Linked DNA regions of Homo sapiens: region 1 is linked to region 2. Evidence: fine-mapped expression QTL. Tissue or cell type: tibial nerve. Region 2 holds a variant in brackets; the other region holds the start of a gene. All regions are shown on one strand. Distances are between the middles of the regions.

Region 1 (2,920 bases), 5.6 kb after region 2:
TTGACTTTTTCCCACTCTAATTGTTCTTATGACTGATATCCAACTAAGAAGAAATGTGACAATAGTGGGTAGTGACAGAATGACCATTTAGGTATTAAAATTCTTTCTTCACTTAATTGTCAACTGGTTAGGAGAAGTGGGATAACTTTCTCTTCTGACGGAGGGAAAAAATGACCAAGGTATTGTAAAGAAAGTTTAATCAGCAGACATCAGACTTGGTTGGAATCATACACATGGTAGTAACAGTCAAGCAAAGATGGAGGAAAGATAATAGACAGCATCTGGGAAATGGTACTGAAAAAGAAGTGGGACACAAAATCTCCATTAGCAGAGAGACAACAGTAGTCTTTTTGTGTGGTTTACTGTTATAAAATTCTGAATAGGAATTCTGTTTCACAGCTGTTAAAAGAGAATTGAAATACAACTGTGTCCAATAATTGAAAAGCAGCTGTTCATTCGCCATGTCTAAAAACAATTGTATAGGAGAAATTGGCTTGGCAGTACAGCAAAAAAAAAAAAAAAAAAAGTGTAATTATTTTTAATTGCCAAAGTGGGGAAGCAATCTGACAGTGGAATAGGACATTGTATGACATCATGAAATCTGCTTTTCTGAGAGTTGAAAAATGGTTAACATTTTCTCTGCCTGATGTGCTATCCGAAGGCAGGAAGGAGTCCCAGTTCATCCCTTATAGGCCCTTAGAGAGAGCATTGTGATGCCAGTTTCCTTTTTTTGTCTATTTTTCCTCCATATATGTACACATATTGTGCACATAACTGATATGTTTTCTTAAGACTTCCCTTTACAGTAACTATTTCCCACTCTGCTGCAGACTAACAAAAACAGAAAACTAAAGGGAAATCAGTGTGAGTCCTGAAAGTTGTGTCCTGCAGTAGGGATTCTGCATAAAACACAAAGAGAGGACACAAAATACGCCACTTTTCAAGTCACATTTACAAAAGGCTTCTCTTTTATCATAATTCACTCGCCAAAAATATAATTGGACAGTCCTTTAGCATTCTGCAGTATTTCTCAGCACCAGCAAAGAGACAGTAAGGAATTTTTCACCAAGAGCCATGAGTAAAGAGAGCTTGTAGCCTTCTACAAGGATCTGGTTGCTCTGAATGGTCAAGTAATCGTGGGAAGTTTATTGTCAATGCCCGGGTAGCAACTCTTTCAACTATGTGATGATCCGCTTTTTTGCTTGCTTTCTATTAAAAAACTGTATTTGATTCTGTGCAAATTCATAAACCAAACACAAAATTCAGGGGTTAAAGAAAACAGTTCTGTAAACAGATGAGACAGACATGCTAATACATTGGAAACATGCTATTTAAATTCAGACTAGTTAAACAGGATGCCCTTTTGTCACTGACCAAATTGTTAAATTGGTGCCTTGGCAAGAGCCTTTTGTACTCTGAAGATTCCCGGGATCCAAACCTCTGTGGTATTAAAACAAACAGAGTAAATATTTTCCTTGAAGTTTACATCCAAGATCTAAATATTTCCAAGCATGTCAAACTCACTTTTCTCCACCGCTCCCTGCAGGGTCCGTGTAGACTTCGGCTGCCAAAGAACCCAGTTGAACTTGCCTTGGGAGGGGCTCCATCCCTGAAGACAAGCAAAGCTCAGAGCCAGAAGCAGGGTGTCTTGCAGCTGTGCTGCTCTGCTTGGCAGAAGGAACTCACGCAGCAGCAGGTGTGCTATCTGCTGACTTCAACACACAGAGACGGGGAAGGCTCTGTCCTTGCTGCTTGCTCCCTAAGCTTGAATATCTGCCATTCCCTTTTACCTATTTGCAGAGAAGTGCCAAGAACCTACCCCGGAAAACCTGCATTTCTCTTCATTAGCTTTAAGTGTGCAAGTCAGCTTTCTAGCTACATAACTTCTAGCTACATAACTTAAGCTAGTTGCAACTGCAAAATAAAGTGATTCCTCTGCAGAATCTAGCAGAGAATATTAACAAACTCTGTTTCTTCTCTCTCTCCCTTGTTTCATATTGTTTTCCATCCAACATGCAGCTGAAGTTCTCTTAGAAAGAGACTACAAAGAACCACAATTGAGTACCACATCAGTATTTTTTTTGGACCTTGTATCTTGGGGACTTACTCTGAAAGTGTCCCAGCATAATCGCGAAGACAATGCTCTGCTCTTTCTTTTTTTTTTTTTTTGGTAGTTACTGACAGTAAATTTTCAAACTGCCATCTCAAATTCAGTGTAATTGAACTCAACCAGAAATAATGAATATAACTGTGGGTATCAATACCTTTGCCTTTAAACTCAGTGAGGTACTTCAAAGTACCTCATCCCACCTCTAAGAAATGCACTTACATTTACCTGGAGTTACCTAATATAAATGAGCCCAGTGCTGCACTGGCCAGGCCTTCCTTCACTGAAGAACTTGTTGCTCTTCAGCTGTTGGCAGATGGCCATAAGCTGGCTGCCCTTCCAAGGATTGCCTCTGTTACAGAGAGCAGCCTTGCCCAAGGACACATCCCTTTGCAGGGAGCCCACATCCAAAAACTGATCAAGGAGGGAGTGTAAGGGCCTGTTCATTGCAAATCAACCTGAGAAAATGCTGAAGGGTCATTCTAGCTCTAGAAATCTCTATGAGATTCCCTGAAGCTGTGATGGGTCTCCGTGGAAGCTCAACTTCTTTCTCTGCCCTGTCTGCTTCCTTCCCCTAACTCGAGAGGTGTTGAATCCAAGGATGCACCTTAATTAACATAACGAGCTCTTAATTTCATCTCAGATTCGGCTTCCCAGGAACCCTAATCTTTGCCACATAGGCTCCTACAAAGCCCATTTTGGGGGGAGTCATGTCTGCATTTGATGCAGGCATCCAACCAGTCAAGTATTTGATTAAATAGGTACAATGTATAAATTTATATCCATAGGAAAATGAGGAAGGAATATTTACTT
Region 2 (2,920 bases):
TAACATCGACCAATAAATTATTGTTAATTATGCTAATTATTTTCTTATAAATTTGCATGAGGCATTAAGAGATGAACTCAATCCCCTATGTAATGTAACTATCACTGTAATATGTGGTTTGCATTTCAACAGAAAATAAGTTTTTACATTAGAAATTTTTTAATGTATTGAAATTTCAACTGTGAATTTTTTCTTTAATTTCAACTCTTAGGAAAGAAATGTCTATTTGTTTCTCTATTCTTTTGTCATGAGATTTCTAATGTTTAAATGTTTGATTTATTTTCCATCTAAAGTTTATTTGTATAAAGCTCAGAATCCGATCGGCATGAGTTGAGTATAACAAATTGGCTGGAAAAAGCCTGTTGTTTGTAGGATATTTCACTTTTCATCAATATTCATATTCTATTAATATTTTAAAGCCCAATTATTCTCACTCTCTAGCAAAGGCTGAAGTGACTTTTAACAATAGATATTCTTTCCAAAAAAGAAAAAAAATCCAAACAATTTCTCCCTTTGTAAGTATAAAACTGCCTAAGCTCAGCCTCTCTTTTTCTGCCACATCCAGCCTCTTCCTCCCACCCCCACCACCATTAGATTTTACACACCATCCATTGTCAGGGACGCAAACTCCTCTACAGTTTGTTAATGTCCAAGAAAGGCCATCACCTCTGAATCATTTTTTCCCCACACATAAATCCTTGAGCCAACAAAGAAAAGTGGTATTTTTCCATTTCCATAATTCCTGTTATTTTAAGTCTATCCCTTAACCAAAGTGGCTTTTTGTTTTTTTTTCCTTGATAACTCACAGGTTCAAATGTAAAAATTTATTATTACAAGGAACAATTATGAGGTTCAAAGCATACTGTGTGCATTCCATGCTCCTAGCTTCTGGTACTGATATACGGAATAAAATACTTGTGGTTGTCTACTTGCATGAAGTGGATGGGATCCAACCACTGGTGGTGAGAGGCTTAATGAATGTCTGCCTTCGTCAGACCCAACAGGGATCTAGCATCATGGGAGGTTGCCCAAGTGCCATACTGCAGGCATCTCAAAAACAAACTTTTGACCATTTAACTTATTCTTTCCAGTTACTCTTCAACGTCAACAATAACAACCACCAAAGAGGAAAAAATGGCTTTGCTTCTTTTCTTACTTTAAATATTGTTCTGGATTTTAAGATTTCAAGATATCTTCCCCAAAACATTGAATTAGACAAACCACTGACCTTTTTGAACACCTTTGGGTTTTGCTTCTTCAGGGCAGCATGTTCAGCACTTTTTTTTTTTTTTTTTTTTTTGAGACAAAGTCTCACTCTTGTTTCCCAGGCTGGAG[T/A]ACAATGGCGCAATCTTGGCTCACTGCAACCTCCACCTCCCAGGTTCAAGCGATTCTTCTGCCTCAGCCTCTCCCAGGTAGCTGGGATTACAGGCGCCTGCCACCATGCCTGGCTAATTTTTGTATTTTTTAGTAGAGACAGGATTTCACCATGTTGGCCAGGCTGGTCTTGAACTCCTGACCTCAGGTCACCACCCGCCTGACCTCAGGTCACCGCCCGCCTCGGCTTCCCAAAGTGCTGAGATTACAGACATAAGCCACCGCGTCCAGCCATGTTCAGCATTTTGATAACTCCCTGCTCATAAAGTCTTCCTTATTTGATGAGATACTTCATTTACATAGTAAAACCAAACAAAAACAAAAACAAACCACAGCATTCTTAATAGTTACTATTTTCTTGCTGTCTCTGTTTTCTTTTGTTTTTAAATAAGACTAGACATAGTAGTTCCCTCTTCTGTGCTCCTATATAATGTTTATAACTGCATAATAGAACAAAAAAATGTGTTTTAGTTACTTGTGTGTATGTTTGCCTCTTCTGGAATACTGAGAGCTTTTTGAGGTTACAGATATATCCTGTGCTTTTTCTTTGCATAGCACATAACATAAAGTCCAATACATAATAGGTAGTCAATAATGAGCTTAAGTAAATGAATTGCCTCTGATTTGTGTATGATAGTTGGAATGCCTCAAGATTTTTAAATCGTCTGCACATTGATATCATACTATCAACAGATCTTTTGCTGTTAAATGTTCAGTAACTATCAATAATAGTTCATAATGCTCTAAGCAATACCGTCTAACAATATAGCTGAATTTGGCATACCCAGATACTTAGTTTTGTACTTTTTGGTGTGACAGAGACTGCACATATGCACTAAAATCCATTGCCATTTCCCACTGGGCACACACACACACACACACACACACACACACAAATACATTTTCTATCACACTTTGCAATTAAATATGGCCATATGACTTAATTGTGACCAACAGAATGTGGGCAGAAAAGATGTTAATCAATTTCAGGCCCATTTTATCACAATATCCCACAAGTGATCCTTGTTGTTTTTTTCCATTTGTCCCTGAAAAGGGAAGGATCCCAGAACCTATAATGCAGCCTTAGGATAGAGATCAGATTAAGGAAATAAGTATTCACAAATATTATTTCAGATAGCCTCATGGAGGCTGATAGATGAGGTTGGAACAATGAAGGTTCAGGTCATGTTGTTTCATGGCAAAACATATGGTAAAACCACTTCATACATTAAATAGAAAGGCACAACACACCTCATGAGCCTATAAGCCTGTAGTTTTTGGACGTGAGGACAAGAGATTGATATGAGAGTAACAGTGCCTATTTGCTACTATTGGCCTTTCTTAGCAATGTATTACAAGAAAGAGATGAGCACAGACAAAAACAGACTTATTTTGAAGCAGAAATTGAAATGGATATGTATCCAGAGATCAATAACTTTTAGAGTTAATAAACCTGAGTGCTTCTGCATCCTAATTAAGATAAATTGAAAAAGGCTCTGAATGACAACAATCAAATAAAATTATTGTTAAAAAACAGACAATTTAA

Direction of the effects. Alleles are on the strand shown, and positions count from the first base shown. SD is a standard deviation of normalised expression in the study named.
For the expression in tibial nerve of the gene that starts at base 1,655 in region 1, allele T in region 2 goes with a lower level than allele A (moderate effect, 0.73 SD a copy in GTEx).

What was found. PIP is the estimated chance that this variant, and not a neighbour inherited with it, causes the effect.
Region 1: it holds the start of LINC01497, and the variant in region 2 is fine-mapped to the expression of LINC01497 in tibial nerve (GTEx, PIP 0.97).

The regions. Positions count from the first base shown.
Region 1 is chr17:69,960,442-69,963,361 of GRCh38, reverse strand. LINC01497 (long intergenic non-protein coding RNA 1497) reads right to left here and starts at 1,655. Exons shown (of 5, transcript NR_110875.1): 1 at 1,525-1,655.
Region 2 is chr17:69,966,054-69,968,973 of GRCh38, reverse strand. The region is part of intron 2 of LINC01497 (long intergenic non-protein coding RNA 1497); the gene reads right to left. Among named protein-coding and RNA genes, the nearest start is that of LINC01497, 5.8 kb to the right of the region's middle. The variant T/A (reference allele first, on the strand shown) is at 1,336.